Linked DNA regions of Homo sapiens. The protein of the gene in region 6 purifies or fractionates together with the protein of the main gene of each other region. This does not show direct contact. Each region holds a gene or a part of one and is shown on either strand. Other genes may lie near its edges. The genes, in order: RSRC2, ZC3H4, FARS2, SCAF1, PPP3CB, SRFBP1 and ZCRB1.

What was found.
Region 1: the proteins of SRFBP1 (region 6) and RSRC2 purify together in Homo sapiens (co-immunoprecipitation; one large-scale study listed by IntAct). This does not show direct contact.
Region 2: the proteins of SRFBP1 (region 6) and ZC3H4 purify together in Homo sapiens (co-immunoprecipitation; one large-scale study listed by IntAct). This does not show direct contact.
Region 3: the proteins of SRFBP1 (region 6) and FARS2 purify together in Homo sapiens (co-immunoprecipitation; one large-scale study listed by IntAct). This does not show direct contact.
Region 4: the proteins of SRFBP1 (region 6) and SCAF1 purify together in Homo sapiens (co-immunoprecipitation; one large-scale study listed by IntAct). This does not show direct contact.
Region 5: the proteins of SRFBP1 (region 6) and PPP3CB purify together in Homo sapiens (co-immunoprecipitation; one large-scale study listed by IntAct). This does not show direct contact.
Region 7: the proteins of SRFBP1 (region 6) and ZCRB1 purify together in Homo sapiens (co-immunoprecipitation; one large-scale study listed by IntAct). This does not show direct contact.

What each region holds. Positions count from the first base shown.
Region 1 is NC_000012.12:122,512,635-122,517,260, reverse strand, and holds part of RSRC2 (arginine/serine-rich coiled-coil protein 2), read left to right. Parts: coding exon 1-34; intron 35-2,033; coding exon 2,034-2,156; intron 2,157-2,532; coding exon of another isoform or gene 2,533-2,545; exon of another isoform or gene 2,546-2,549; intron 2,550-3,386; exon of another isoform or gene 3,387-3,494; intron 3,495-4,626.
Region 2 is NC_000019.10:47,089,428-47,094,053, forward strand, and holds part of ZC3H4 (zinc finger CCCH domain-containing protein 4), read right to left. Parts: coding exon 4,543-4,626; intron 763-4,542; coding exon 540-762; intron 1-539. UniProt on the Homo sapiens protein: RNA-binding protein that suppresses transcription of long non-coding RNAs (lncRNAs). LncRNAs are defined as transcripts more than 200 nucleotides that are not translated into protein.
Region 3 is NC_000006.12:5,544,066-5,548,691, reverse strand, and holds part of FARS2 (phenylalanine--tRNA ligase, mitochondrial), read right to left. Parts: intron 3,513-4,626; coding exon 3,352-3,512; intron 1-3,351. UniProt on the Homo sapiens protein: Is responsible for the charging of tRNA(Phe) with phenylalanine in mitochondrial translation.
Region 4 is NC_000019.10:49,655,161-49,659,753, reverse strand, and holds the end of SCAF1 (splicing factor, arginine/serine-rich 19), read right to left. Parts: intron 1,994-4,593; coding exon 1,865-1,993; intron 1,547-1,864; coding exon 1,355-1,546; 3' UTR 1,112-1,354; downstream 1-1,111. Other genes in the region: IRF3 (interferon regulatory factor 3), read left to right, coding at 1-165.
Region 5 is NC_000010.11:73,485,274-73,489,899, forward strand, and holds part of PPP3CB (serine/threonine-protein phosphatase 2B catalytic subunit beta isoform), read right to left. Parts: intron 1-4,626. UniProt on the Homo sapiens protein: Calcium-dependent, calmodulin-stimulated protein phosphatase which plays an essential role in the transduction of intracellular Ca(2+)-mediated signals.
Region 6 is NC_000005.10:121,971,975-121,976,600, forward strand, and holds part of SRFBP1 (serum response factor-binding protein 1), read left to right. Parts: intron 1-2,221; coding exon 2,222-2,310; intron 2,311-3,340; coding exon 3,341-3,413; intron 3,414-4,626. UniProt on the Homo sapiens protein: May be involved in regulating transcriptional activation of cardiac genes during the aging process. May play a role in biosynthesis and/or processing of SLC2A4 in adipose cells.
Region 7 is NC_000012.12:42,313,513-42,316,892, forward strand, and holds part of ZCRB1 (zinc finger CCHC-type and RNA-binding motif-containing protein 1), read right to left. Parts: intron 475-3,380; coding exon 362-474; intron 254-361; coding exon 178-253; intron 1-177.

The DNA.
Region 1 (4,626 bases), on a different chromosome or scaffold from region 6:
CTAGAAGCAGGAGTAGGACAAGGAGTAGGAGTCGGTAGGTGACCATCATCCTGAATAAAATTTAATAGGACCCTCAGAGAGTCTGTTTATCTTCCTCAGTAAGAGAGTATTAAAATTGTGAGTCACAATTCTATTTATAGATTATGGTAAAATTATTTTAGTCATTACCTAACGTATGAAGAACACACCTAACCACTTGAATAGCATTCACAGGTATTCTCGTGATTGATAAATCTCTTGCGAAGTGCAGGTATGAATAGGCCTATTAAAATGCAGTTGTTGGCTAGGTGTCGTGGTTTACACCTGTAATCACAACGAGGCGAGCAGATTTTTTGAGCCCAGGAGTTCAAGACCAGCCTGGGCAATATGGTGAAACCCCATGTCTACAAAAGATATGAAAATTAGCCTGGGGTGATGACCCACACCTATGATCCCAGCTACTTGGGAGGCTGAGGTGGGATAATCACTTGAGCCCAGAAGGCAGAGGTTGCAGTGAGCCAAGATCATGCTGTTGCACTCCAGTCTGGGTGACAGGAGTGAATCCTGTCGTAACAAACAAATTCAGTTGTGTTCAACACTGGATTTGTTGTATTAATTTTATTATCACAAATAACTAAAATCTCCTTTTGCATACTTACCATATGCTGTATGCTAGAACTCCTTGCATGTTATTAGCTCATCTAGTTCTCAGAAGAACCATGTTGAAAGGTAAGTGTGTCGTGCTTAAAGACGTTTAAGAAATTTGCCCCAGAATTCCAAAACAGTATCATTATTAAGTGCTAGAGCCAGGAGCAGGTTTCAGATATATCTAAATGCAAATTCCATGCATGTGCTTAACCCACTGTATTGTACAAACTACCTCAGATTTTGTTTGTAAATGAACACAATTTAGATTTATCTTGATTGGTGGGAGGAGGCTTTGTTGAGATAGGAGGTGTACAATAAAGAGCACAGGAGGAAAACTAATTATAAATATTCTTCAATGAATGCGTTATTCTCTGCTTGTTTACATATGACAGTAGTATACTGACTTTTGTAAATTGATTGCAACTTAGGTCAGTGTATGAAAGATTGAAACATACATTTAAAAAGGGACCTGTACTTAATACAGTAACTTGGTTTTTATGATTTATCACTTGATCTTTAAATCAATATGAATTTTTACTCAGTGGTTCTAGTTTATAGTAGTTTACTACTTTGAACCTTACCAATTAAGAAATTTTTTTTTAAGTGCTTTTTTGGTCACTGACATCTAGTTTTTTTGTTTGTTTTGAGACAGAGTCTCACTCTGTCGCCCAGGCTGGAGTGCGATGGCACAATCTTGGCTCACTGCAACCTCTGCCTCCTGGGTTCAAGCGATTTTCCTGCCTCAGCCTCCCGAGTAGCTGGGATTACAGGCACCCAGCATCACGCACGGCTAAATTTTGTGTTTTTGTAGAGACGGGGTTTCACCATGTTGGCCAGGCAGGTCTCGAACTCCTGACCTCAGGTCATCTGTCCGCCTGAGCTTCCCAAAGTTCTGGGATTACAGGCATGAGCCACAGCACCCAGCCAGACCTAATTTTTAGTGGTTAATAACTTTTTATTTTTGAAAAACATCTACAAATTCACTGTAGATGAAAATATGTAGGAATGATTCCTGTGGTATACATATTGACCTACAAGAGCACAAAATGACTAATGTATAAGGCTAGCTTTTCCAACATTGGATATACTATGCAAAAGATTGGAAACAGCCAGATGCGGTGGGGCATGCTTGTAGACCTGTGTACTCTGGAGGCTAAGGCAGGAGGATCACTGGAGGCCAGCCTGGGCAACATGGTGAGACCCTGTCTCTTAAAAAGGGATGAGGGAGTTGGAAACAAATGTTATTTCCAATGAGTTCAGCTGTAACACTGATGTTTTAAATCTTTTGCATCTCAAACTAAATGTTTTTGTATCGTTGGGATTTTTGTTTGAACTAATTGATTTCTTATTAACAAAATAGTTATGACTTGGCCATAATTTGACATATGAAATACGATTTACTACAGAGATAGAAAGAAGAGAATTGAAAAGCCGAGAAGATTTAGCAGAAGTTTAAGCCGGACTCCAAGTCCACCTCCCTTCAGAGGCAGAAACACAGCAATGGATGCACAGGAAGCTTTAGCTAGAAGGTGTGTATATTTCTTAATTCATTTGTTCCAGTTCGCCTTTAAATAAATGCTCAATTGTGTGGATAAGATGAATTCTTTCAGTAAGAGAATGATTCACATACTTTAGTAATATGGTGGCATATTTGTGATCTAGAACTATGTAAATAGTTTAATTCTCATCCTAAACATTTGCACAACTATAAGATTGAGATGTCTACAATTTCTGTTTTTTCCTTCATGATTTAACTGATTTCATTTTTCTCAAATTTAGACTCCCAAATATTTTCAGTTTGCATTTGAAACTTTTTTTTTTTGAGTCTTAAATCTGGTTCAAGAACTATTATTTTCTCATCTAAGATGACTTTTCCTTTACTTTTTGTTTTTCTCCCTCAAATAGACAAAATACCTGAAACAGTAAGTAAAATTTTGTCAATATTATTATTTTGAAGATGGCAATTAACAGATAATACATTATAAGCTAATTTATTTGATCTTGTAAGTTTTATTCCTGGTAACTATGGGAGAACTTTTTTTTTTTTTTTTTAATTTTCTGCTGTTTCGGCCGGGTGCAATCGGTCACACCTGTAATCCCGGCATTTTGGGAGGCCGAGGCGGGCGGATCACTTGAGGTCAGGAGTTGGGAGACCAGCCTGGCCAACATGGTGAAACCCCATCTCTACTAAAAATACAAAAATTAGCTGGGCGTGGTGGCAGGCGCCTGTAATCCCAGCTACTCTGGAGGCTGAGGCACGAGAATCGCTTGAACCCATGAGGCAGAGGTTGCAGTAAGCCAAGATCGCACCACTGCACTCCAGCCTGGGCGATAGAGCGAGACTCAGTCTCAAAAAAAAAAAACACACACACACACACACACAAAAATAAATTTTCTGCTGTTTCAAAGATGAGTAATGGTGAAACCACACACAGCACGACTATATATTGAAATCTGCAAAACTATTCAAAGAACTGCCTCATAGAGAGGCAAAAAGTAAAATAAAATCCAAGCACTTGTTTGCAGTATTTCCCATATTTTGAAAAATAGACTTTTTAGGTTTTGATTTTTTTTTCTCTCGTTACAAAATTAAGGTGTTTTGTTTTTTGAGACAGGGTCCCACCCAGGCTGGAGTGCAGTGGCACATGATGACGGCTCACTGCATACTTGAATTCCTGGGCCCAAGCAATCCTCCCACCTCAGCCTCTCAAGTAGTTGGGACCACAGGCATGCCTGGCTAATTTTTGTATTTTTTGTAGAGAAGACGGGGTCTCCCTATGTTGCCCAGGCTGGTAACACAGTGTAACCTGATGTGCTTCCCTGGGAACCCAGCCTGACAGAAACTGCAGCTGAACAGCAGCAAAAGTGTGAGCTCACCCCTTCTTTCCATTCACCTTAGTGAATGGTATTAATTCCAAATCTTCAATGGCCATTTTAATGCAACCAGTTGTAGTCACACGTATCTTCTTTCTGAAACTAGTATGGAAATAATTTACTATAAAATTGGATTTAGTATATGCTAGATTGTAATTTCATTAACTCTGACAAATATTTTTTAAGCTCTTATTTACTTGAATGCCATAAGTCTATTCTGTTTGTGTTTTTGGATTTTTTTAAAAGTGAAGCCGTTAATAGCATCCAAAATGTCATTGATATATAGATTACTTGGTGATCTTTCAGATAAAGTTTTAAATGTAGTTCTTTAATTTCAGAATATGAGATTATTTACTACCTTGAAATCTGGAGAATTTTTTTCTTAAGAAACTACCATGTATAGACCTTTTATATTGGTTTCTTTTTTGGCTTAAAGGTCAGGATTTAAAACTGTTTAGGAAATACATTTCAGATCTGTGACCTACTTTTTTTATTTTTTATTTTTATTTTATTTTATTTATTTATTTATTTATTTATTTATTTATTTATTTATTTATTTATTTTTGAGACGGAGTCTTGCTCTGTTGCCCAGGCTGGAGTGCAGGAGCATGATCTTGGCTCACTGCAACCTCTGCCTTCTGGGTTCAGGCAATTCTCGTGCCTCAGCCTCCCAAGAAGCTGGGATTACTGATGCGCATCACCACACCCAGCTAATTTTTGTTTTCTTTTTAATAGAGACGGGTTTTGCCATGTTGGCCAAGCTGGTCTCGAACTGCTGGCCTCAAGCAGTCTTCCCACCTTGGCCTCCCAAAGTGCTAGGATTACAGGCATGAGCCACCTTGCCAAGCCTGCGACCTACATTTTATTGTTACTGCTAATTTACAAACTTTTATTCTCAAGGACAAAGTCAAGTCTATGTTATGCCTTCCATGCATATGTGCTTCATAAAAGGGAATAAAATTATAGCTTGTTATATTTCTTTTATGTAAATTTCAACAATTTTTTTTTTTCCTTTTCCTCTTTTTTTTTTTTTGAGATGAAGTCTTGTTGCCTAGGCTGGAGTGCAGTGGTGTGATCTCAGCTTACTGCAACCCCTGCCTCCTGGGTTCAAGCGATTCTCCTGCC
Region 2 (4,626 bases), on a different chromosome or scaffold from region 6:
CGGCCTCCCAAAGTGCTGGGATTACAGGCATGGGCCACTGCGCCGGCAGAGATGTGTTCTAAGAGGCCAGTCAGGGCTACCGTGTCTCTGGTGCTCAAGCCTCCTCCACCTTCCTCCCAAAGGACACAGGTTCAAGGTTCAGAGGTGTGGCAGTGGCAAGGACTGCAGTCACACTTTGTCAGGTGATGGGGCTGGGAGAATGGGGGAGCACTGCTGTGGGGTGTGGCAGCCAGCTGTCAGTGACCATGGCCCAGGTGAAAGAGAAGCTGTTCCCTTCTCCCCCCACAGCTGACCAGGAAGTGACCTTTCGGGCACGCTGGCCTTCTCCCTGCCTCACACCAGCCTGGTACCACCCCAACCACAGCCCAGCGGGTGATCTCTCCGGTCTCCTGTGCCATGCACATGCAGAGCCTGGCCCTTCTTTGTACACTTATCCCAACCCTAAGTGACCAAACTTGAGGTTCTGTGAGACCAGGCCACCGGGGTTGGCCCGGGTGGCTCCGATGCCCCAGAGGAGAAACTGTAAGGGCAGGGCTCACCTCGGCCGCGGCTGCTGCCCTCCTTGGCACGCCGGTACTGGTTCAGCTCTTTGGTGAAGTCGTCATAGTCCTCCTTGCCCATGTCCTCCTCCTCGTCGCCCTCATATTCCCCATACTGCTCATTCTCGTAGTCCTCGTACATGCCATAACTCTTGCTGTCCATCTTGGAGTATGCCTTCTTGGGCAGGGGCGTGGCATGCGATGGGGGGTACTGCTGGTGGGACTGCGTCCCAGAGATGGGGAAAAGAGGTGAGCCGGATCCCACAGCCGTGGGTGCAGACTACCAAGATACCCAGGGTTCCCTAAACGAACATGTCTGTCTGGGTGTCACTACTGTCCCAGGGTTGCACTGCTGGTCTCCAGCCCCTCTGGGGACTGGTTCTCGTACCAGGGAGTGGGAGTAGCAGCGGGCCCAAGTGTTTCTGTTCTTCATAAAGGGCCAGAACTAGAAAGAAAACAGAACCACAGACCCCCGATCCCTGATGAACAAAGGGGAGAAGAAGGGAGCATTTCCCAAGGATGCAGAGCAAGCGCACGTGGAGGGGCCTGGGAAGCAGGCGGGGGCTGCTTGGTCACAATTTTCCTAGGGCCCTGGAATTCAATAAATGGCCTGCTTGGCAGCCAGGCTGGACAGCCATCTCAAATGATGCTTTCCAAAGTGTGGTAATGCCAAGTGGTACTAGAAGAAGTTAAAGATACTCATAAAAACGGAAGCAACCAAGACATCCTTCAACAGGTAAATGGATAACAAACTGGTATATCCAGACAATGGAGTAACGACGAATATGTAACAATAAAGTGTGTATTGGGCAAAACCCAGAGAACTATACAACCCTAAGTAATAACAATGTATCAATACCGGCTCATCAATTCTAACAAAGTTACCACAACAATGCAAGACATTGGTAATGGGAAACTGGAGGCAGGGAAGGGGGCAGGCAGAGGGGAGAAGGGAACTCTACTACTACCTGCTCAATTTTGAATAAACTTAAAACAGCTCTAAAAAAGAAAGTCAGGGGGCTGGGCGCGGTGGCTCATGCCTGTAATCCCAGCACTTTGGGAGGCCGAGGCGGGCAGATCACAAGGTCAGGAGATGCAGACGCGAAATGCGATCTCTACTAAAAATGCAAAAATGCAACAACAACAACAACAACAAAATAGCCGAGTGTGGGGCAGGCACCTGTAATCCCAGCTACTTGAGAGGCTGAGGCAGGAGAATTGCTTGAACCCGCGAGGCAGAGGTTGTAGTGAGCAGAGACTGCACCACTGCACTCCAACCAGGGTGACACAGCGAAACAACAACTCAAAAAAATTAAAATAAAGTCCGGGCACAGTAGCTCACACCTGTAATCCCAGCACTGTGGGAGGCCCAGGCAGGCAGATCTCTTGAGGTCAGGAGTTCCAGACCAGCCTGGCCAACATGGTGAAACCCAGTCTCTACTAAAAATACAAAATGAATTAGCCGGGCATGGTGATGGGCGCCTCTAATCCCAGCTACTCGGGAGACTGAGGTGTGAGAATCACTTGAACCCGGGAGGCAGAGGATGCGGTGAGGCAAGATTGCGCCACTGCACTCCAGCCTGGGCGACAGAGCGAGACTCTGTCTCAAAAAATAATTAAAATTAAAAAAAAAAAGTTGGGCCAAGCGTGGTAGCTCACGCCTGTAATCCCAGCACTTTCGGAGGCAAAGGCAGGCAGATCACAAAGTCAGGAGTTCGAGACCAGCCTGGCCAACATAGTGAAACCCCGTCTCTACTAAAAATACAAAAAAAAAAAATTTGCCAGGTGTGGTGGTGGGCGCCTGTAATCCCAGCTACTTGAGAGGCTGAGGCAGGAGAATCGCTTGAACCAGGGAGGCGGAGGTTGCAGTGAGCCGAGATTGTGCCACTGCACTCCAGCTTGGGCGACAGAGCGAGACTCCATCTCTAAATAAATGAATGAATGAACGCATAAAAAAGTCGGCTGCGCATGGTGGCTCATGTCTGCAATCCCCGCACTTTGGGAGGCCGAGGTGGGCAGATCATTTGACCCCAGGAATTTGAGACCAGCCTGGGCAACATTTTGAAACCCCATCTCTACCAAAAGTACAAAAATTAGCCTTGGCGTTATGGCCCATGGTTCCAGCTACTTAGGAGGCTGAGGCAGGAAGATCACCTGAGCCCAGGGAGCTCGAGGCTGCAGTGAGGTGAGATCACACCACTGCACTCCAGCCTGGGCAACAGAGTGAGATCCCATCTCAATAAACAAACAAACAAACAATAAAGCCCACTAATTTTAAAAAATCCGAATTATAGAAAAACAGGACAATGCAAAATACAGCTAGACACACAGACACACATACAAGTACTTTAGCAGATCTTTAAAATGCCTCCAGCTCTAGTTCATAAAAAGCACGCAATGTTCCCTCCATTTCCTGCCTCCCTCAGGTTTGAAGGCCAAACCTACACCAGTAGATCAATCTCAACTATGGTATTGGACAATGAATCATTTGTTGTGATGGATGATGCTGGGTCATGGGATACCTGGGACAGCTTTAAAGACCTACTAACTTTAAAACATTTCTCAACCAGCCGGGCACGGTGGCTCTCGCCTGTAACCCTAGCACTGTGGGAGGCCAAGGCGGGCGGGTCACCTGAGGTCAGGAGTTCGAGGCCAGCCTGGCCAACATCGTGAAACCCTGTCTCTACTAAAAATACAAAAATCAGCCGGGCAAGGTGGCACATGCCTGTAATCCCAGCTACTCGGGAGGCTGAGACAGGAGAATCGCTTGAACCAGAGAGGTGGAAGTTGCAGTGAACCGAGATTGCCCCACTGCACTCCAGCCTAGGCGACAGAGCAAGACTCCGTCTCAATAAATAAATAAATAAATAAATAAATAAATAAACAAACAAGACAAAACATTTCTCATCCAAACCCGGACACCCACGTGCCAACGAATACTGGGTAAAGTAATCATAAGATGATTTGCGGCCGGGCGCGGTGGCTCACACCTGTAATCCCAGCACTTTGAGAGGCCGAGGCAGGCGGATCACGAGGTCAGGAGATGGAGACCATCCTGGCTAAGACGGTGAAATCCTGTCTCTACTAAAAACACAAAAACTTGGCCGGGAGTGGTGGCGGGTGCCTGTAGTCCCAGCTACTCAGGATGCTGAAGCAGAAGAATGGTGCGACCCCAGGAGACAGAGCTTGCAGTGAGCTGAGATTGCACCACTGTACTCCAGCCTGGGCGACAGAGTGAGACTCTGCCTCAAAAAAAAAAAAAAAAAAAAAAAAATGATTTGCTTTTCTCTTATGGGATTTTCTGGGGGAAGAAATGGTATACAAACTGAACAAATAATTTAAATTGCTGCTTGAAATGAGAGCGACAGTGGCTGAGTATCTAACCTCTGCCTACTGGCTACTTGAGAACATTTCATTCTCTTGCCAATTTCCCAAAAAGGTCATTTGTGAACAGTGGAAGCCAGTCAGCCGTGACGTGGACCAGTCAGCATCTTTCTCTGAGACATACAGGGCCTTGCTAAGGCCGCATGGAGGAGGCTCGAGAACATGCCTCATGGAGGTCAGCTAGGGCCTGGGTTCAAATCCCAGCTCCTTTACTTCAGAGAGCTGGGCAACCCTGTTGAAATTTTCTTTTCCTTTTGAGACAGGATCTTGCTCTGTCTGTCACCCAGGCTAGAGTACAGTGGCTGATCATAGCTCACTGCAACCTTAAACTTCTGGGCTCAAGGGATCTTCTCACCTCTGCCTCCTGAGTAGCTGGAACTACAGGCATGCCTGGTTAATTTTTTTATTTTTTGTGGGGTCTCACTTGGTTGTCTGGGCTGCCTTGTTGAAATTGTCTAAGTTTCAGTTTCCTCACTCATAAAATGGGGATTAAATTAATACCTGATGGCCCAGGACTGAAACTCACAAAAAATGCCCAGAACACAGCAAGTGCTCAAGAAACACAAGCAGTTGAACTCCTCCCGGCCCCAGAGCTCAGCAGTGCATGCCAGTCACTCACCGGCGCATATGGGGGGCTGTACTCTCTGTACTTGCGGTGACCTTTCTCACTGGGGCTGAAATCCGAGTCATCTGAGAAGTCAGA
Region 3 (4,626 bases), on a different chromosome or scaffold from region 6:
AATTGAATTTAAGCCACTTAATTCTGGTGGCAACTGTGTTTTTCATCTTTATTTGTCACACCATGGTGTTGAGCACACCATTCTACACGATGTTGGTGTTCTTTAAATGTTTGCTGATTAAATAACTGACAATATATTAAAAAGAGAATGAGAAAAAGTTACAGCCCTAGCCAGGTTTTATTGTAAATTAGATACAGCTTTATTTCAAATTAGTCTACAAGGAAATTGATGCTAAAATAAAACAGATAATTATTCAAGTAGAAGTTTTTAAAAGTCCTCATAAGGTAAAACCAAAAATATATGCATATATACATAGAAAGGTTCAAGATGCAGATGGGCACACACACAAAATCAGTGTGCTTCACTATAACAATAACAAAATACACTCATAAAAATCATACCTGTCCTTAAAGTTGATGATATGGTTTGGCTGTGTCCCCGCCCAAATCTCAACTTCAATTGTATCTCCCAGAATTCCCACATGTTGTGGGAGCAACTCAGGTGGAGGTAATGGAATCACAGGGGCCGGTCTTTCCTGTGCTATTCTCGTGATAGTGATTAAGTCTCACAAGATCTGATGGGTTTATCAGGGGTTTCTGATTTTGCTTCTTCATCATTTTCTCTTGCTGCTGCCATGTAAGAAGTGCCTTTCGCCCACCGCCATGATTCTGAGGCCTCCCCAGCCATGTGGAACTGTACGTCCAATTAAACCTCTTTTTCTTCCCAGTCTGGGGTATATCTTTATCAGCAGCATGAAAATGGACTAATACAGTTGAAAAGGTCTGTACACAAATATAAATAAGTATAACTCCAGAGAGAGATGAGCCCTTCTAGGGTAGACAGACACTGATGGCTGCTGTCGCCACTGGGGCGTGAGTAGGCAGAAGAGCTAGCCTGCTACTGGCAAAGACATTTTGTTGGAATAAGAAGAATGAGCCACACTTGCGTCAGCCAAGCATGGGCTGGCATGGCAGATTGGAAAATGGAGAAACAGAGCTAACCCTCACTGCCAGCCAATTCTCCTTCATAATATTTCTGCTTACAAACGCTGGTGGTGGAAGAAGCTGGTAAGTGGATGGAAAGCAGAAAGAGATCCTGTGATCTCACATGGTTAGATCCCAAACTCTGCTGCAGGGCTAGATCTCACCATCAAGAGGAAAGCAGATGTGAAATTCAACTCAACTCCTGATTAGAACAAAAAGATCTGGCCTAGTCACCTTAGCAGCCAGAAGGTAGAAAGCATAAGACTTTCTGGGGATAAATTTTATCTACCTCAGTCTTTGTCCATTCAAACACAATTAAAAAAAAAACAAAAAGACAAGTGAAGCAGCAGGAAATATGTAAGCCATGATTAGGAAGGGAAAACAACCACAACAAAAGAACACTAGATAATCAAATGGTTGGAATTAACAGACAAGTACTTTAAAATAACCATTATGAGGCCGGGCGCAGTGGTTCATACCTGTAATCCCAGCACTTCGGGAGGCCAAGATGGGCAGATCACCTGAGGTCAGGAGTTTGAGACCAGCCTGGCCAACATGGTGAAACCCTGTATCTACTAAAAATACAAAAGTTAGCCAGGCATGGCAGTGTATGCCTGTAATCCCAGCTACTCGGGAGGCTGAGGTGGGAGAATTGCTTGAATCCAGGAGGCAGAGGTTGCAGTGAGCTGAGATCATGCCATTGCACTCCAGCCTGGGGAACAGAGCAAGTCTCCGTCTCAAAATAAATAAATAAAATAAAATAAAATAAAATAAAATAACCATTATGAATATGTGAAAGAATTTAAGGAAGAATGGATGAAATGGATGAAAAAATCAAGCATTTCAGTAGATAAATGAAAACTCTAAAAAGGAAGCAAATGCAAATTCTAGAATTGATAAATACAGTTATCTGGGGAATGATTAATTCACTGGATGGGCTTAATGGTTACTTGGACAAAACAGGAAAAAAAAAAAGATGAGCAACCCAAAGAGAAGACAATAAAAATTATCAAAAATAAAGCACACAGGAAAAGAAAATCGTTAATTAAAAAAACCTTTCATCAGAGTTCTATGGCATAGGATCAAATGGTCTAACATATATGCAGCTTCATTCTGAAAAATGAATGGAGTAGAATTGTTGGAAAAGATACTAGATGAGGGCTGGGCGCAGTGGCTCACTCCTGTAATCCCAGCACTTCGGGAGGCCAAGGCGGGCGAATCACAAGGTCAGGAGTTTGAGACCAGCCTGGCCAACATGGTGAAACCCCGTCTCTACTAAAAATACACAAAATTAGCTGGGCGTAGTGGTGGGCGCCTGTAATCCCAGCTGCTCAGGAGGCTGAGGCAGGAGAATTGCTTGAACCCAGGAGGCGCAGGTTGCAGTGAGCCAAGATCGCGCACTCCAGCCCAGGCGACAGAGTGAGATTCTGTCTAAAAAAAAAAAAAAAAAAAAGTACAAAATTGGTTCTCTGCTTAGACTAATAATATTGACAAATATCTTTTCTCTTGCATAAAATTTCTGAAGGTTTATGAACCCCTTGTGTGTTTATGGACCTCTATTTAGGAACTTCTTTTTTTTTGAGACAGAGTTTCGCTATTTTTGCCCAGGCTGGAGTGCAATGGCACGATCTCAGCTGACTGCAACCTCTGCCTCCTGGGTTCAAGTGATTCTCCTGCCTCAGTCTCCCAAGTAGCTGGGACTACAGGTGCGTGCCACCATGCCCAGCTAATTTTTGTATTTTTAGTAGAGACAGGGTTTCACCATGTTGACTAGGCTGGTCTCGAACTCTTGACCTCAGGTGATCCACCCGTCTTGGCCTCCCAAAGTGCTGAGATTAAAGGCATGAGCCACCATGCCTGGCCAGAACTTCTTTACAAATTCACATTATTTAAAATTCATGCAGCCATAAAAAAGAATGAGTTCACGTCCTTTGCAGAAACATGGATGAAGCTGGAAACCATCATTCTCAGCAAACTAACAGAGAAACAGAAAACCAGACACCACATGTTCTCACTCATAAGTTGGAGTTGAACAATGAGAACACATGGACACAGGGAGGGGAACATCACACACCGGGGCCTGTTGCGGGGTGGCAGGCAAGGGGAGGCAGAGCATTAGGACAAATACCTAATGCATGTGGGGCTTAAAACCTAGATGACGGGTTGATAGGCACAGCAAACCACCATGGCACACGTATACCTATGCAACAAACCTGCACGTTCTGCACATGTATCCCAGAACTTAAAGTAAAATGAAAATAAAATAAAATAAATAAAATAAAATTCAGTGGCTTTCAAGTACATGATCCTGTCGATCCTTGACAGCCATTTTTATTATTATCTATTCAGTTCTTGCAAGTCATCTTACCTGAAACTTCACCTTCTGATTAATGTTGGATACACAGAACTGCTTCAGGAAGCGCTCGTCCTCACACCAGAAGAGACGGATATCAGGGATGTCGTAGAGGATCATGGCTAGCCTTTCTAATCCTAGGCCAAAAGCCCAGCCGATTCGGTCTTGAGCACCAGCTGTGATTAGGAAACAAAATAGTTGTTTTTAAAAAGTATCGAGATTGGATAGGTTCATACCACTCCCTGACAGTTATCAGTGACACTAATTAGATGCCTACCAGCGGGCAAAGGCACTGGGCAGCCGCTACAAAGACATCCATGAGGGTGCCCAATCTTCCACGCTTTCTCATCTCCATATTCCGGACTGCCCTCATGAACGGATTCTGAAGTCATACTGTCTGGAGTACTGTCTTTCATTTCTGATTACATTCTAGGCTTTCTGAAGCACTGGTTCCTGAACTGAGTTATGATTTTTCTGTAGTCTTTGCTTGCTCTGATTCAAACATTTAGCCCACTGAATATAGGTTACAGAGTGGAAAGAAAAGACGGTCTCTGTCCTTAAGTGTAGTAGATAATGAGATACATTCAAAACATGCCATAGTGGCCATAACATGTTTAGAACGAACTTACATGAAGAAAGTACATACGTCATGCCTTTAAGAACCTCAGTTTTATTAAACACCATAATGCTTATTCTTACCAACAGCCACTTCAGCATTGCAGAGAACACAAGCAGGCCCAGACGAGGGGTATAACTAGCACCACCTACTCCAAAGGTACAGTGTCCTGCTCAGATTGTGTCAGTGCCATAAATTAGAAGGGTTTACTTCACAAACTGAGGCAGTGTAAAAGGGAAGATAGAAACTGCAGAATGAAGGCAGGCAAAGGAGCAGTTCACACTGCAGGAAAGCTTATGAAATGAGCTCATGAAAGGATATAATTCCAACTGGACACTAACAGATGAGTAGGATCCTGTGGTAGGCTGAGATGGCCTCGGAGACTCCCACCCCGCATGCACATGCCTTGTGTAAACTCCTCCCGTTGAGTATGGGTGGGATCTAGGAACACAATGGGAATTTAAGCCTGTGACTGCTTTACTTTTTATCTAGGACTCCATCTTGGCCGATTGGAGAGAGATCCACCTCCTGGCTGTGAAGAGGCCACATGGCTCGGGCCCTTGAGAAGTCCTAAAGGAGCTCAGAGAGGCACCAGCAGCCAGGGAGAAAATGGGAACTTCACTTCTACAGTGGGACGGAACAAATTCTCCCAATAGCTGGAGTGAGCTGATGAT
Region 4 (4,593 bases), on a different chromosome or scaffold from region 6:
GCACATTTCCAACAGCCACCCACTCTCCCTCACCTCCGACCAGTACAAGGCCTACCTGCAGGACTTGGTGGAGGGCATGGATTTCCAGGGCCCTGGGGAGAGCTGAGCCCTCGCTCCTCATGGTGTGCCTCCAACCCCCCTGTTCCCCACCACCTCAACCAATAAACTGGTTCCTGCTATGATCACTTGTGCGTGTCTGGTGTTGGGTGCCCTCTGACCCAATATGGTTGTTATTCCCGCTCAGGGTCTCAGTTTACCCATCTGTGCAGCTATATACAACTCAGGTGCTCAATGCATGAAGACCAAGCACTGCAGGGGGCAGCTGACACCTCCTCACTTCTGCCCAGGGACCTGGTGGGTGATGGCTGTCCCCGTGTTGTAGACCAAGACACAGGCTGGGAGAGGCGCAAAGGTCACAGAGTAGGAAACACAAAGACTAGCCAGAACCCAGGCCCCCTGCCTTGCCTATGAACAGTTTGGGCAAGTGGTCCTTCTCCTTCCAGGCCTCAGGCTCCCCTCCACGTGGGGCTGGAGGGGTCTTGGTAAAGGGGCTCTGCGGCCACCCTGGAGCCTGCAAAGCCTGCCTGCCTGGTGACCCTGGGCACTGTCACCTCTCCTGGTTGGGCCGCAGTTCTGGGTGATGAAACTGGCAGAAGCCAGCGCAGCCCTGACTCACCCTTCGGCCCTTGCTGCTCTGTGCCTCAGTTTCCCTCTCAGGACAGTTGATGAGATCACCCCAGCTTCACGGGGCTGCTGAAAAGAGAAGCCAACTCAATGGGGAACACAGATCCTGCTCTGGGAGCAATTCCAAGGCAGGCACATGGCACCCAGGAGCCGAGCTGGGAAGATGCTGATCAGGTGGGGTCCGGCCCCTGCCTCCCTGTGAGCAGCTCGCTCCCAGCCAGAGACTGTGCTAAGTGCTCCACCTGTGTCTTGTTCAATCATCACAACACCCACTACACAGATAAGAAAACTGAGGCCCAGGGGAGGCAGCTGCCCCAAGTCACAGTCTGGTCTCTGTCTCCCATCCTCAGCCTCCTGGGGGTCCCTCCCCAACCCTCTGGCAAATTTGTCTCCGAAAACAAAGGGTTAGAACCATGGGGCTCAGGGGTAATGTTTCATGAAATCTTTAATGAAATTGGGGAGAGGGGCACAAACAGAAGGGAGGGGCACTGGGGACAGGCTTGGGGGCAAGGGAGGTGGACACGGGGCAGGGCAGGGCAGGGGGCTCTCCTCTTCCCTGCAGCAACCCTCCCCCAGTCATCCCACTGACGGGGGAGGGAGGTGGGGAGGTGGAGCCATAAATACGTCCAGAGTTTCAAAGAGGTGAGGGGCGAAGAGCTGGCCAGGGCTCTCAGAGAGGGGGCAGGGGCAGGCCCGGGCCACCCTTGTCTGGGGGCCCTGGCTCCTTGGGCGGCCGTGGGGGCCCTGGGGGGTCCCCTGGCTTGCGACCGTGCTTGCGGAAGTAGCGGTAGCGCTGGACGTAGGCCCGCACCAGGTTGCTCACCTTCACTGGGTTGATTTCCCCACTTTTGCTGTGGCAGATCTGGGGGGCCGGGGACAGTTGGAGTCACCACCAGGCTCCCGGGGCCCCATCCACCCAGGACTGTTGGGCGCAGCTTGGAACTGCGGTAGGAGGAGCTTCCCCAATAACCAGGCCAAAGTCCCTCTGTCCCCCTAGACGATGGGTGCCCCAGGGCCAGCGGAACAGGCCCAGGTGGCCTTGAGAAAATCCTGTCACCCTCCTCACCTCCCAGACTGACCTCCTCCCCGTCTCCCATCCGCGTCCATCTGTCTGCACACATCTGTCCCTCCAGCTCGTTCTCTCCCCGGCCTGTGTCTGCCCCTCTCTCCGGGTGCCCACCTTGTGGACGGCCTTCCTCAGGATGTCCTTGTACTCCTCCTTGGTGATGTCCTTCTTCTGATAGTATGGCTTGATGGCCAGCTTCACCTCCTCCACCGCCCGCTCCTGCGTGTGCAGCTTCTTCAGATACTGGTGGGGTGGCGACAGCGGGGGAAGACACAGCAAGGGCCAGTGAGTACCTGCGGAACCTCCACCTCCACTCGCCTCTGCTGCCAGCCTAACCTCTCTGGCCGTCCAGCTGCTCTCAGGCTGGAAGTCCTGCTGAGGGTCTGTCCCATGCGCCCTCTGCTGCAGGTGCCCGGGACCAAAGGCCAGGCCTGGGCCTCTGCATGTCACTGAACATCTCCTCCAGGCCGAACCCTGGGCTGCTCCAGGCCTGGCCGGGACCAGGACATGTGTGTCGCCTGCCCTCACAAAGTTCAGTCTGATGAGAAGACAGGCATTGGCCAAGAAATTGCAGCTGGTTTTGAATCAGACTCTAGAGGCGGGGCTGTAGAAAACTGCACAGGGCTTTTCACCGCGGGAGCGGGGAGGACTCAGTTTAGGTTTTTACAGTACTGCTCTGGTCACCCAGGGGATGGAGGGGGTGGCTAGGGGTGAGGGGCACTGGGGAGTGGGGGTGGGGACTGACCTTGAGCCCATTTGTATCAGAAGCCTGGTCTGCCACTCCCTGTCTCTGACCCCTGGGATGCTCAGCCAAACCTTTTTGTGGCTCCTTTTTTGTTTCTTTGTTTTTGAGACAGGGTCTCTCATTGTCATGCAGGCTGGAGTGCAGTGGCACAATCACTGCTCACTGTACCCCTGGTCTCCTGGGCTAAAGCGATCTTCCCACCTCAGCCTCCTGAATAGCTGGGACTAGATGTGCCACCCCCACGCCTGGCTAATTCTTGTACTTTTTGTGGCGACTAGGTCTCACTATGTTGCCCAAGCTGATCTTGAACTCCTGGGCTCAAGCGATTCACCCGCCTCGGCCTTGCGAAGTGTTGGAATTACAGGCATGAGCCACCGTGCCTGGCCACCTTTGTGGCTCATTTGTAAAACGGGGACAGCACCTATGGGCAGTACTACAGCGACACACATGGAGGACATGGCACAGGCTGGGTACAGAGCAAAGACTCAATCCAGGGGAGCTGTGCCTGTTCCAAGGGGGATGGCCATGGGATGAAAAGGGGAGGACGCAACAGGGACAGGGCAGAGAGCCTCCGAGGCAAGGCTCTTCCCGCCTGTGGCCAGCAAGCTAGGAGATCCCGCAGCCGCAGGCTCGGGGCAGCAGCTGCAGCCCTGGCCTCAGGCAGAATCCTTGCAAAAGCAGACAGGAAACCTCTAGCCAGAGAGCCACGTGGGACCAGAGAAGAACAGGCCTTCTGCAGGCACAAGGGACAGTCCCTTGGCACCACCCTTGGAGAAGCTGCCCTCCCAAGCCAGGTGACTATCAAAGTAGGGGCAGGTAAACTGAGTCCTGGGAAGGGCAGGGCACAATGGCTAGCCGACTCCAGGAGCAACATCAGTGACACTGTCTGACGAGCTACTGAGCTGTTAGGGAACTCTGTGGCCAGAAGAGACACAGGCTGCCCTGGAGGGACTTCTCAGGCTTGCCTGGCCCCACAGGATGTGGGTCTCTAGAGAGACGCTGCTCCCCAACACCCATCTCGGATGGGCAAAGCGGGGCAAAGGGCAGAGCACAGACCAGGGCAGAGCAAGGGCCACTGTAGACCAGGGGGTCCTCACCGTCCGAGTCCTGCAGCGCAAGGCACAAGCTACGGACAAGTGACCGACTAAACTGCAGCCCCGCCTCTGCGGCTCACACAGGATGTTTAATGGGGTTTATACAGCTTTATCTGGCACGGTACACAGCTGTGTAAGGGTGGCCAACGTCACCGTCTGGCTATGGGCTACTAGACTGTAAGAAAACACATCTAGGCTGGGTGCAGTGGCTCATGCCTATAATCCCAGCACTTTGGGAGGCTGAGGTGGGAGAATCACTTGAGCTCAGGAATTTGAGACCAGCCTGGGCAACATAGTGAGACCCCAACTCTACAAAAAATTAAGAAATGAGCTGGGCATGGTGGCGCGTGCCTGTAGTCCTAGCTACACAGGATGCTGACGTAGGAGGATCCCTTGAGCCCGAGAGATCAAGGCTGAGGCTACAGTGAGCTGTGACTGTGCCACTGCATGCCAGCTTGGGTGACAAAGCGAGACCCTGTCTCAAAAACCAACCAACCAAGGCCGGGCACGGTGGCTCACACCTGTAATCCCTGCACTTTGGGAGGCCGAGGCTGGCAGATCACCTGAGGTCAGGAGTCAAGACCAGCCTGGCCAACGTGGTGAAATGCCGTCTCTACTAAAAATACAAAAATTAGCTGGGTGTGGTGGCGGGTGCCTGTCATCCCAGCTACTCGGGAGGCTGAGGTAGGAGAATCACTTGAACCCTGGAGGCGGAGGCTGCAGTGAGCCGAGATGGCACCATTGCACTCCAGACCAGGTGACAGAGCAAGACTCCATCTCAAAGAAAAACAAAAACAAAAACCCACATCTAGACCTGACCAAGAGAGAAACAGCTCCAGAGCCCAGGAGTAGGAGCCGGCCAGAGCAGCTGAGTAAGAACCTACATTACTGTCTGCCTGGCACCCATTCTCCCCTGCTTCATCTACAAACAGGTTCTTGAGTTTTCATTCGGAAACCACCCTCCCCCACTCACAGAGACGGAGACAGCGCGAGCAACAGATAAT
Region 5 (4,626 bases), on a different chromosome or scaffold from region 6:
CATTTTAATTTAGGAAGTTGGAAAAAGAAACCAAGAACACAGACTGATCAGGAATTGGGAAAAAGGGGGTGGTGGTACAGAGATCTTCTTACTGTTTCTACCACTGGGCAAGGAAACCTGAGAATTAACTGATCCTGTTCCCCAATTCTAAGCAAGGACTGCCCTCTTAGCCCTATGAGGCCTCTGACTTCAACGGGGGTACAGTCTGTGCCAAGTGAATAACTTGACTCCAAAGTATCATTCAGATGCCTAAGGTCAGTTAATCTCATCATGCTTCCCATCATTGCCATCCTTGGCAACTATCCAAAATACAGTCTCTACATCTATACTTCTAAATTTTTCTCTGTATTTCTTTCCCTCATACAATTTCCTTCTTGCTGTTCTCCCTCCATCCTTTTCATTGAGGCCTTCAGAATTCCTATTATAAGATTTTGTTTTAATCTATCCCACAAACCCTACACACAATCTCTTTTTTTGTTGTTTTCTTGGCAGAGTCTCGCATCGTCGCCGGGGCTGGAATGCAGTGGCAGGATCTCAGCTCACTGAAACCCCCACCTCCCAGGTTCAAGCAATTCTCCTGCCTCAGCCTCCCAAGTAGCTGAGACTACAGGCACACACCACCACACCTGGCTAATTGTGTGTGTGTGTGTGTGTGTGTGTGTGTGTGTGTGTGTGTGTATTTTTTTTTTTCAGATGCAGTCTTGCTCTGTTGCCCAGGCTAGAATGCAGTGGCGCAACATGAGCTCACTGCAACCTCTGCCTCCCAGGTTCAAGCGATTCTCCTGCCTCAGCCTCCTGAGCAGCTGGGATTACAGGCGTGCACCACCATGCCCGGCTAATCTTTGTATTTTTAGTAGAGACGGGGTTTCACCATGTTGGCCAGGCTGGACTCGAACCCTTAACCTCGTGATCCGCCTGCCTCGGCCTTCCAAAGTGCTGGGATTACAGGCGTGAGCCACCACGCCCAGCCAATTTTTTGTAGTTTTAGTAGAGATGGGGTTTCACTATGTTGGCCAGACTGGTTTTTTTTTTTTTTTTTTTTTTCTTCTGAGACGGAGTTTTGCTCTTGTTGCCCAGGCTGGCGTGCGATGGTGCAATCTCAGCTCACCGCAACGTCTGCCTCCCAGGTTCAAGTGATTCTCCTGCCTCAGCCTCCCAAGTAGCTGGGATTACAGGCATGCACCACCACGCCTGGCTAATTTTGTATTTTTAGTAGAGACTGGGTTTCTCCATGTTGGTCAGGCTGGTCTTGAACTCCTGACCTCAGGTGATCCACCCACCTCAGCCTCCCAAAGTGCTGGGATTACAGGCGTGAGCCACCGCGCTTGGCCTCTCTCTTCTTTAGCTCTACACAGAATACTGTCTTCATCTCTCTAGTTTAATTACATCTTGGGTCTCCTGAAGGACAACACTTATCAAATTCTTTTTTCAAAGTGGATGGTGCTCATTTTTCCGCATTCCACTAATCTCAGTGGAGGCTTCAGCATTCTCTTAGCTCCGCATTAGCACTTCCAACATCATCTCTCCACTAAGGGAAAAAAAATGCCTCCTCCTTTGAGATTCATGCCTTCTGGCTAGTTTACCCTTGTCCCTGCTATCTATTAAACTAATCATAGGCTGGGTGCCGTGGCTTAAATCTGTAATCCTAGCATTTTGGGAGGCCAAGGCGGGTGGATTACCTGAGGTCAGGAGTTTCAGACCAGCCTGGCCAACATGGTGAAACCCATCTGTACTAAAAATACAAAAATTAGCTGGGCATGGTGTCGGGCTCCTATAATCCTAACTACTGGGGAGGCTGAGGCACGAGAATTGCTTGAACCTTGGAAGCAGAGGTTGTAGTAAGCCGGGATTGGGCCACTGTACTCCCGCCTGGGCGAGAGTGAGACTTTCTCTCAAAAGAAAACTAGTCATCATAGGCTCAAGTTTCTGGCCCACAAGTCTTATCCATTCTAAGTTCCACCATTATCAAAACCTATCTAAAACTTAAGAACTGGCCAGGTGCAGTGGCTCATGCCTGTAATCCCAGTACTTTGGGAGGTCAAGGTGGGTATATCGCTTGAGGTCAGGAGTTTGAGAACAGCCTGGCCAACATGGCGAAATCCCGTCTCTACTAAAAATACAAAAATTAGCGGGGCGTGGTGGCAGATGCCTATAATCCCAGCTACTTGGGAGGCTGAGGCAGGAGAGTTGCTTGAACCTGGGAGGCAGAGGTTGCAGTGAGCCGAGATCATGCCACTGTACTCCAGCCAGGGCAACAGAGTGAGACTCCATCTCAAAAAAAAACCAAAACCAAAAAAAAAAAAAAAAAAAACAAACAGGAAAAACATAGGTATTAAGAAATGTTTACAGAATTAATGATTATAGTTTCCAAAATACTTGTTTAACGACACTAATTTATGTAGCAATGACAATATATTTATAGTGTTTTATTCATAGTTGACCAAGTACTTTCACATACATAATCCTACATGATTCCCAGGGACATCCTTTGAGTTTGGTCAGGCAAGTTTTTGTTTTTTTTTTTTCCACAGAGTCTCGCTCTGTTGCCCCAGTTGGAGTGCAATGGTGAGATCTCAGCTCATGGCAACCCCTGCCTCCCAGGTTCAAGCGATTCTCCCTACCTCAGCCTCTCGAGTAGCTGGGATTACAGGCGCCCACCATCACACCCGGCTAATTAGTATATTTTTAATAGAGACGGGGTTTCACCATGTTGGCCAGGCTGGTCTCGAACATATGACCTCAAGTGATCCGCCCGCCTCCACCTCCCAAAGTGCTGGGGTTAGGGTCAGGCAAGTTTTATCTCCCATTTCACAAATGATAGATAACAGGTTCAGAGACATTAAGTTGCTTCTCCAGGGGTTTCACTAGTAAGAAGTAGAGCCATAGTTGAAATTGAAGTCTTCAGAATGCTGCTCCTGTAGCATATGTCTTTATACCAACACAAGGACAATTTTCTTTTGACAAAAGGAGACATCAAAAGGCTGATCATGGCTGGGCGTGGTGGCTCACACCTGTAACTGCAGCACTTTGGGAGGCCAAGGCAGGACAGTCACTGGAGCCCAGGAATTTGAGACCAATCTGGGCAACATAGTGAGACCTCTGTCTCCATAAAAAATAAACAAAATTAGCCAGGCATGGTGGTGTGTGCCTGTAGTCCCAGCTACTTGGGAGGCTGAGTTGGGGGATCGCTTGAGCCCAGAAGTTTGAACCTGCAGTGAGCTATGATCATGGCGCTGCACTACAGCCTGGGTGACAGAGCAAGATCCTGTCTTGAGGGTTAAAAAAAAAAAAAAAAAAAAGCCTCATCATGAAGAATGATATAACCATTTGCTTGCCAGGAGTAGAAGTATGGATTGGCCACATGCTTTAAGGAAAGATTCAATAAATCCAACAGCATTGTCTTCAAAATTTCAAGGTATCCATTGGGTCTCTTTTAATTTGTGGTGGTTTTTAAATATACCTTTCCCTCAAAATTGGCTCCCCTTCCTGGCTTACACCTGTTAAGGTATCACCATTCTCTATCACTCACACTTAATGTCATTGTTCTCTTTCTGAACTCTAAGTCCTATTGATTCTTCAAATTCAATTTTCTTAAATCTCCACTGTTGCAATACTAGTTCAAGTTCTTATCATTTACTAGAAAAATCTCTTCTTCCTCTTTGACTGAACAAAGTAGTAAATTAACCTACTCAAAAACTTGGGGTAGTTTCTTAATGACTAAAGAATAAAGAAAAAGAAAACTTTGGATCTTATTTTCAAGGTTCTTCTCAATTTAACCATTCTCAGTCTTTTACATATCATTCCAATCTTTGCATCTAACTACAATTGCCCAATTTAATCTAGCCCTAAAGCAAAATTATTCTGATTATTGTTTCCTAAAAAACTGTTGCTCACCTATTTCACTTCCATACTCAATCACTCATCCAATATACTTACCTTCTAATATTAGTAGGAATTTGTGTCGTATCTAGTTTTTCATGCCTTGGTCATCCCTCACTTGGACTACTCCATTAATCTTCTAATTAGACAACCTGCTTTAAGCTTCTTGCCCTCCAATAATTTGTTGCACACAATATGGCCAGAATTAGCCATCAAAAAACAAGATACTGGGTCACTATTCTACTTTAAAACCTTCAATAATAATAATAATAATAATAATGGTGATGGTTACCATTGGTTGAGTACTTACCATGTGCCAGGCCAGGAACTGTGGTACCTACTTTATATGCACGGTCTCTATTAATTCTCCAAAAACCCTATAATAAGATTTTATTAGCTCTACTTTACAGATAAGAAAATTAAGGCTTGGAGATGTTAAGTATCTTGTCCATGGCAAGAAGGTTATTAAGTAGTAGAGCTAGGATTCAAACCCAGGCAGTCTGACTCCAGAGCTTGTGCTTTTAATCATCCAGGTACTATATACTGCTATACTGCTTAACAGCTTAAGTTTTAGCTCCTCAACTTGTAATACAAAAGATCTTTTCTAACTTCATTCCTGTCACTCCTTGCCAAGCACTTCACATACTTTTGCCATACATTTCATGCTTTTTTCAAACTCCATGCCTTTCTGCTTCTGTTACACCTACTCTAGCCCCACTTTCTGGTGAAATTCTACTCATCCTTCAA
Region 6 (4,626 bases):
TGAGTTTGGACGTCTCTTTCTAAAAGCTTAGTTCTCCACACAACTGAAGAGGGAGTGGTCCTAGTGAACCATGTAATGAGGATGTTTATTTAGTCTCTAATGAAAATGACTCAATCATGTTTAAAAATCAGTGGGAAACAAATGCATTAAAAGGAAGAGAATGACAATGCTATGGTAAAGGGATAATCCATAGTAGAGGTTCTAGGAAGGCAGAAGAGAATGGGCTCTAAAAGACAGTTAAAAGATAAACTCAGATATGTGTAGTGGTATTTCTTATATTGTAACTTTATTCGTAAAGGAAGATGGGTCATGGAAGTACATTTGCATTCATGGTAGTAGAAAAATGATGGTTCCCAACTGATAATTATTTTCTCCACACGATTGAAAGAGAGAAAGGAGGACGGAGACTAGAGGATTTAGGAGAGTAGGCAAAAGCTTAAAACAGGCATTGTAGAGTGAACTGAACAGAAAAATACAGGATGGCTAGGAAGAATGGGGGTCCACTTGAGGTTAATTATGATGAATTTATAGTAGACAGAATGTTACAAGTATTTGCTGTTGGCATATGACAATGAAGAACTCAGAGTGTTTTTTTCATTCAGGACTACGGTTTCCTCACCAGAGGGGCAGGAGTTTAAGAAATTGGCAGATGTTATCATGTATCTAAACTGCATAAAAAGAGGAACATTAAGTGTAGGAGTCAGTGGATTGGTGGTCCTAATGAAGTCAAAGATGGTTGTGGTGGGTGGAGTTGAACAAGCAAGCTGATAGAGGTTGTGATCACAGTGTGGAATATTTGAATTAATGGTTTTAGAAATTGAATATTATGAGTGATGACAAGGTTGACAGTGTGGCCATGGAAGTGGATGGCTGAGATAGAATAGATTAGGTCTTTAGAAAATAAGTAAAGAAGTGAAGATATAATTATCAGATGGGCTATTCAAGTGGACATGCAAGTTACACAGAATGATGGCAGAACTTAGGGTGTAAAGAAATTGTAAGTTGGTTGCTAATATCTTCAGTGAATAAGGGAGTGAATGACATGAAGGGTAAGAGAAGATATTAATTAAATGGAAGAGCCTTAAAGAAACAGGATGATGTTGATAATGTTATTTTGGCAAGAAGAATTTGAGGAATTTTTTGTGCCAGGCACTCTTGCAGGGCAAAGAAAACACTATATAAATATTACAAGACTCCTGTTTTCTAGGAGCTTGCTGTCTATAGAAAAAGACAGCCACATGAGCCATTAGTAACAGTGCAGTGAGGTAGATGCTTTAATGACAGAATCTGTATAGTGGGGACCCCAGGGATGGAGTGGTTATCCTTAACTGAAGAAGTCATTGAAGGTATCACTGGAATGACTATATCTGAACCTGAATTTTATATAGTTCCTAAAGTGAAGAAGGGGAAGAAGGACATTCCAGGAGTAATTTTTAAGATGTATGCCTCGTAACTGATAGATGAAATATAAACTCCGTAATTACATGCCATTGCACTGAAAGCTGTTATAATGTGTATTTTTTTTATAACTATAATTTCCATTTTTTGGCCTATAGCTCTGCTTTTTGTTCTTAGAGTTAAACATTGTTCTCCAGTAGGGTGATTTAAATTATGTATTTGTATGTGTGTGCATGTGTGTGTGGGGGGGGGGCATGTATGTTTACATGCACATATGCTTGCACACAATGCCCTTGTGTTTGTGGATCTTCTTTTAAAATTATACTTGAAATAATTTGTTACTAAAAATAATGAAAGATTTGTTTTATAAATATGTAAAATAAATTGCTAATTAAAAGCTAATTTGCTAATTAAAATAGTCATTCAACAAATTAAATTCCTACCATTATGAGTGAGGCTTTGTTTTAACGGTGGGAATACAAAGATGAATATGACAGGCTGTGATTTCAGGGAACTCACTGTTTATTATATTCCAAGCCCAGCAAGATATAAGTGTAACATTAAAATACTTATCTCGGGTAATACTGTGACTTTTTAAAAAATTATAACTTGTTTTTCTTAAGCTCTCAGACACATTTTTAGACTGTTGATTTATTCCTTCACTATTTATGGAAGAGGTTTGATTTCATCAAGCTACGAATATAGTTAGACAATAAAAGTAGTTAAAGTGGTAGACTAAGTCTCAAATATTAAGACTCAAAATAAAGTGTGTTTGTTCCTGAAGTAAGTGCCTTTCTTCTAATTATTGCTTTATTCTTCAAAGGTTGTGAAGATGAGAAAAGAAGTGAAGAGAATTCGAGTTTTAGTTATCCGAAAACTTGTCAGGAGTGTTGGCCGACTGAAGTCAAAAAAGTTAGTCATTTAAAGTAATGATCTTGTGACTAATAAAATGTCAAAAGTTGTTTTTATTTGATACTTTAAAATGTTTAGGGTGGGATATAGAGAAGTAATTAAATGTCTTATACACCATTTTTGTTTTGTATGCGGAGATGATGTGAGTGAGATAGAATGTGCTGTGTCAGCATGCCCTTCTATGGTTTGGACCATCATTGCTCAAGATACAGGATGAATTTTTTTGCTGCTTTTGCAAAACTCTCTTTTGGTCTTTTTAGAATGAAATTCCCTTGGGCTTGTGTGTTTTGTGTTATCAGAAGTTATTTTAAGATACTGATACAGCTTAACAAATCTAGTAATACCTTAAGAATCAGTTTTGAAGATTTTATATCACATTTTTTCTTGAATTGCTAAGTAATTTGAAATCTTCAGTACCTTATGAAAGTGTTTATTAGAACATTGTGTTCCATGTAATTTTTTGGAAAAATACAATATTTTGTATTTTCAGTATCACTAGTGTTAGTGAAAAAGTATTTTATTTATAGTTCTTTTTATGATGTAAGCATGAATACTTAGTCTTCAAGTATGTTTTGTTCCTGATTAATTTCCTATTCTTTCATAAATATGTCAGAATATAGCCCTTCTTTATTTTTTCCTTAAATGCCAGAGAGCAAATTTTCATTTGATAAAATTATAGTCAAACTCTAATTGTAAATTATGACATTTATATTACATTAAATACAATGTACGATTGATTGATTTAAAAAAGTGTTATTAAGGAACTAGAGAAGGCAAACTATCAAAAGTAATAGTCATTAATACAATGGCAAGACAGTACTTATTTTTGCCATTTTCCAACATATGGGTTTGGTTAGTAAATTGAGGTGTGTTTTGGGAGTGGGGGAAATGGACAGTGTAGGATAGTGGCGTGTTTGTTATTTAGAGATTTATTACGCTTTTCTAAAAAGAAATGAAGTGATTATCCATTACACTATAAGTCTAAAATTAATGCTTTGCCTGGCTACATATCGTAATGTATTTTTTGCAGGGGTACTGAAGATGCACTGTTAAAAAACCAAAGACGGGCGCAAAGATTGCTTGAAGAAATCCATGCCATGAAGGTAAGGACTTGTGTGGGTGTGTATGTGTGTATGTTTCTGAGTATCCTGTTATCCTGCATTTTGTTTGTGTGTGGTATTGCTTATTTGAATATTCCCGAGAGTTGCGTAAGACATCTTGTATCAGTCTGTTTGGTGAAGAATGTAGCACATTTAGAAAATTGTAACATTTAAGCTTGCATTTTTCTGTTTTTGACTGAATTTGTTAAAGTGCTAGGCTAATTTGAGTCAAAATTGTGCCAAACTAAATTCATCTATGTTTAATAATGCCTCCTGCCTCAGGTTTTTATTTTTACTGTAACTTTAGCACGAAGTCAGTTCAAGAATTAAAGTCTTCATGCTATTTGGGAATGTGGATGGTGATATTGGTGGCTGACATCATGCTTTCCTTGTTGCCAGCTCAATAAATTTTTATGTATTGGTATCGGCATTTTATTCAGTTCTGTAGTAACTTCAAATAAAATTAGTGTTAGACCAATGTGATCCCATATTTTTGTTTTTTTTTTCAGTCAGACTCTTCACTAGCATAATTTTTAGGTCTTCTTGCTGCTCTTACTTTGAGGAAACTTTCATTTACCAAATGACATGACATTAAATGTCTGGGAGACTGTTTTACTGTAGAACTTAAAAACAACATTTGGTCCCAGCAATTTTCTTAATTGCAGGGTCATTTTGCATGCATGTTTGCCTATTATATTTTGGTATAACTTTCAAGTTTTGAATTAAGTAAAAGAGAAATAAAACTCTCTAACTATTTTAATTGAGTTAAGTTATCAAAGATTCTCAGCCTTTCTTCCTTTTAAACGGATAGTAAAGTGTTTAATAGGACAAAGTTATCCCAGTTAATCTGAATAAAAACATCTAGGAAACGACTCTTTGATATGAAGTATATTTGTTTCTTGTGTTCTTCCTTCCCTCTGCTGCACACTATTATAAAATTCATGGAATCCATCTGATATAACTTTTATTTCTCAAGGTTATAATTCCCTTTTTATTCAGTCCTTCAGGAAAAAAAAGTCTTCTGTATTTGACTGTCAGTGATCATTTGTGTCTCTGTGGTTTGCAGATTATTTAGTTTTTTCATATACCTTTTTAAAATGATATTCCTATGAGAAATAAAATCTTTAGAGATTTTGTCTTGAGAATAGCAATAAAATAGGAAGTTACAATTTATCTCTTTCACTTTCTCTTAACCAAGGTTCTTACTAAATTACAT
Region 7 (3,380 bases), on a different chromosome or scaffold from region 6:
ACCAATGGGAACTTTTCATTCACACTGGCTAAGTACCTCAGAGAAACAGCTTGTCTCCTAAGGCTTAGGAGGTTAGGGGGAAAAAGAGAGGTTGCCATGAGGTGATCAATGAAGTAAGCAAGCACTATAAACCAAGTCAACTATTGTATGATGCCTTTTAAAAGAACAATTTAATACCTGGAATGCTATGGCCTGACTGAGGCTGTCAAGAGCAGGATCCTCCCCTTCATCTTCACTTTCTTCTACTTCCTCACTTAAATAAAGAAAAACAAATTGGAATGTAACCAACCAATAATCAAAAGCAACCAACCAAAAGACAAAAGCAACATGATGATGTATTTAGTAAGAATAATATACATACATTTCTTCTTCTGGTTCAGGAGCTTTCTTTTTTTTCTTTTTTTCTTTCTTCTTTGGAGGCTCACGTTCTCCGAGCATATTTTTCGGACAGGCATAACTTAAGTGTCCACTTTCCTTTTGTTTCCCATTAAAAAGGAAAGGAAAAATACCATATTTGATGTTATTTATAAAAACTTGCCTGGTACCTTATTACTAAAAAGTTTTCAAATTTAAAAAGGAATATTCCCATACTGGGACTATACAGAAGACATTAATGATAAAACCCAGTACTTTAATATTTAGAAGGTGATATTATAACTCTCAGTTATTTTAACATTTAGGACTATTTAGTAGTTTTACTAAGAGTAGTGGTAGTAGTCTTCTTTCAAACATTTAAATCTCAAAATTCAAGATATAAAACAGTTTGGTCGGGCGCGGTGGCTCACGCCTGTAATCCTAGCACTTTGGGAAGCCGAGGTGGGTGGATCACCTGAGGTCTGGAGTTTGAGACCAGACTAACCAAAATGGTGAAATCCCGTCTCTACTAAAAAAAAAAAAAAAAAAAAAAAAAAAAAAAAAATTAGTTGGGCATAAGTGGCACACACCTGTAGTCCCAGCTACTCAGGAGGCTGAGGTAGGAGAATTGCTTAAACCCAGGAGGTGGAGGTTGCAGTGAGCTGAGATCATTCCGTTGCACTCCAGCCTGGGTGACAAGAGCAAAACTCCGTCTCAAAAAAAAAAAATCAAAATTTAAATGGATCATTTACCCTAAATGTAAACATCTTAAGTTATTGATAAAACGAGGATAAAACTATTCCTGTTAATTTCCAAGATGTTGCTTAATACTCTGTTGGGCTGGGCAGGCTGAGGCAGGTGGGTCACCTTAGGAAGTGAGTTCAAGACCCGCCTGGCCAACATGGGGAAACCCTGTCTCTACTAAATATACAAAAATTAGCTGGGCTTGGTGGCATATGCCTGTAATCCCAGCTACTCAGGAGACTGAGGCACAAGAATTGATCGAACGCGGGAGGCAGAGACTGCAGTGAGCTGAGATTGTGCCACCGCACTCCAGCCTAGGCAACAGAGCAAGACCCTGTCTCAAAAAACAAACAAAAAACCAAAAAACAAATGGAAAATTTCTTCCTCACTTTTCCTATGAATTACTTCCGTTTTTTCCCTTTTATATCCTGACTACACTTGCACTATCCAATTACAGTAGTCACTAGCCAGCCAATGTGGCTACTGAGAACTTGTCTGAATTGATACGTACTGTAAAGGTAAAATACACATTGGATTTCTGAAGACTTAGTAACATACGTGGCTTGCATTATATTCTCATTTGACAATGCTGGACTAGGCTATTATTCCTACTTAGCTAGAACATTGATTTGTAAAACATAAGAGCTCAACTATAATCTGGACATCAGCTCACTACAATTCCATTTAAGAGGTTATGTCAGGGTAGGGTGTGGGGACTGAGCCAAGGTTAGAACAATAGAAGGGAACAATAATCATGCTTTTCCAGTATATTTGACAGAGCAGACAGACTGTGCACTTTGTATACCTAGGACATAGCCCAACTTAAAGAGGTTACTTACTGTTAATGAGCTGCTGAGAAAATAGAGACACATATCTGAAACTGTTTTGGAATAATATTATAGCAAAAAAAAATTAACATATCCCATACTAAAAAAGGATTTAATGAAATAACTTGAGAAAAACCAGGCTAGGTCAATATAAAAAAGTTTTTTTTGGAGGGAGGGAAATTAAATATAAAAATGTAAAAAATATAACAACTCTATGGATCCATAAACCAAAAGGAACCGATTAACAGATTCATCTAGGATTTCTCAGATAATTTAATATTTACTGTGAATATGAAGATATATACTAATCTGAATATAACTACCTTCCCTCCCTCCCTTTCTTTCTTTTACAAAACTCAAAACTTTGGAAAAGTTTCTAAAGTGTTTACTTAAGAGGTTTTAGAATCATAGGAATTGACAGAATCAGTATGTATCCAAGCAACTGCTTGCTCACTCTTTCTATTCATCCATCCATCAGTCTGTTTATTTAGTTATCTTTTTTGTCGGGGGTATGGGGAGTGACAGTGGGGTAGAGGACCTCAAGCCATTTCCTTGCATCTTCCATGTGATTTTGTAGCCAGGACGGTATCTTTCAGTGATTCTCTCCCCAGTTCCCCATTACTACCTCTGGACTCTGTTTTTTAAGTATTTTATTTTATGTTTATTTTTATTTTTGAGACAGAGTCTCCCTCTGTTGCCCAGGCTGGAGTGCAGTGGAGTAATCTCGGCTCACTGCAACCTCCACCTCCTGGGTTCAAGCGAGTCTCCTGCCTCAGCCTTCCAAGTAGCTGGGATTACAGGCACCTGCCACCATGCCTGGCTAATTTTTTTTTTGTATTTTTAGTAGAAACTCAGTTTCACTATGTTGGTCAGTCTGCTTTTGAACTCCAGACCTCAAGTGATCCGTCCACCTCAGCATCCCAAAATGCTAGGATTACAGGCGTGAGCCACTGTGCCCGGCCTGTTTCTTAAGTATTTTTATGGTCATTTTACAAACTTACACCTGTGAGAACCAGACTAAAATTCTCTTGGTACCAATACAGACCTTATACAAAATTATTCTATGGCTGTCTCTCTCTCTTCATCACCAAAACTTTAAATGGATAATGACAGATCATGAAGAGAACCAAAGAAGAAAATGTGGGGATAGTTCAGTTACAAAACACTAGCAATACTAATAGGAAAAAATAAAAAACTTCAAAACACAATATCCCATAGAGGATAAAGTCACATGATAATGTTGCTATTGAACTGTGACTTAAAAACTGTTAAAGAAACAGGCAATATCCTATTAACAAAAATTTATGAGTTACGAAAATCTTGCAAGACAGTGACATAAGTAATCAGTCTAACACTTTTAAAACTAGTGATTTTCAAAGATTTAGGAACTAGAGAAAATACCACTTTGTATTACCCAACTCAGGTTATCTTTACACATTGCATTTCAATTGAATT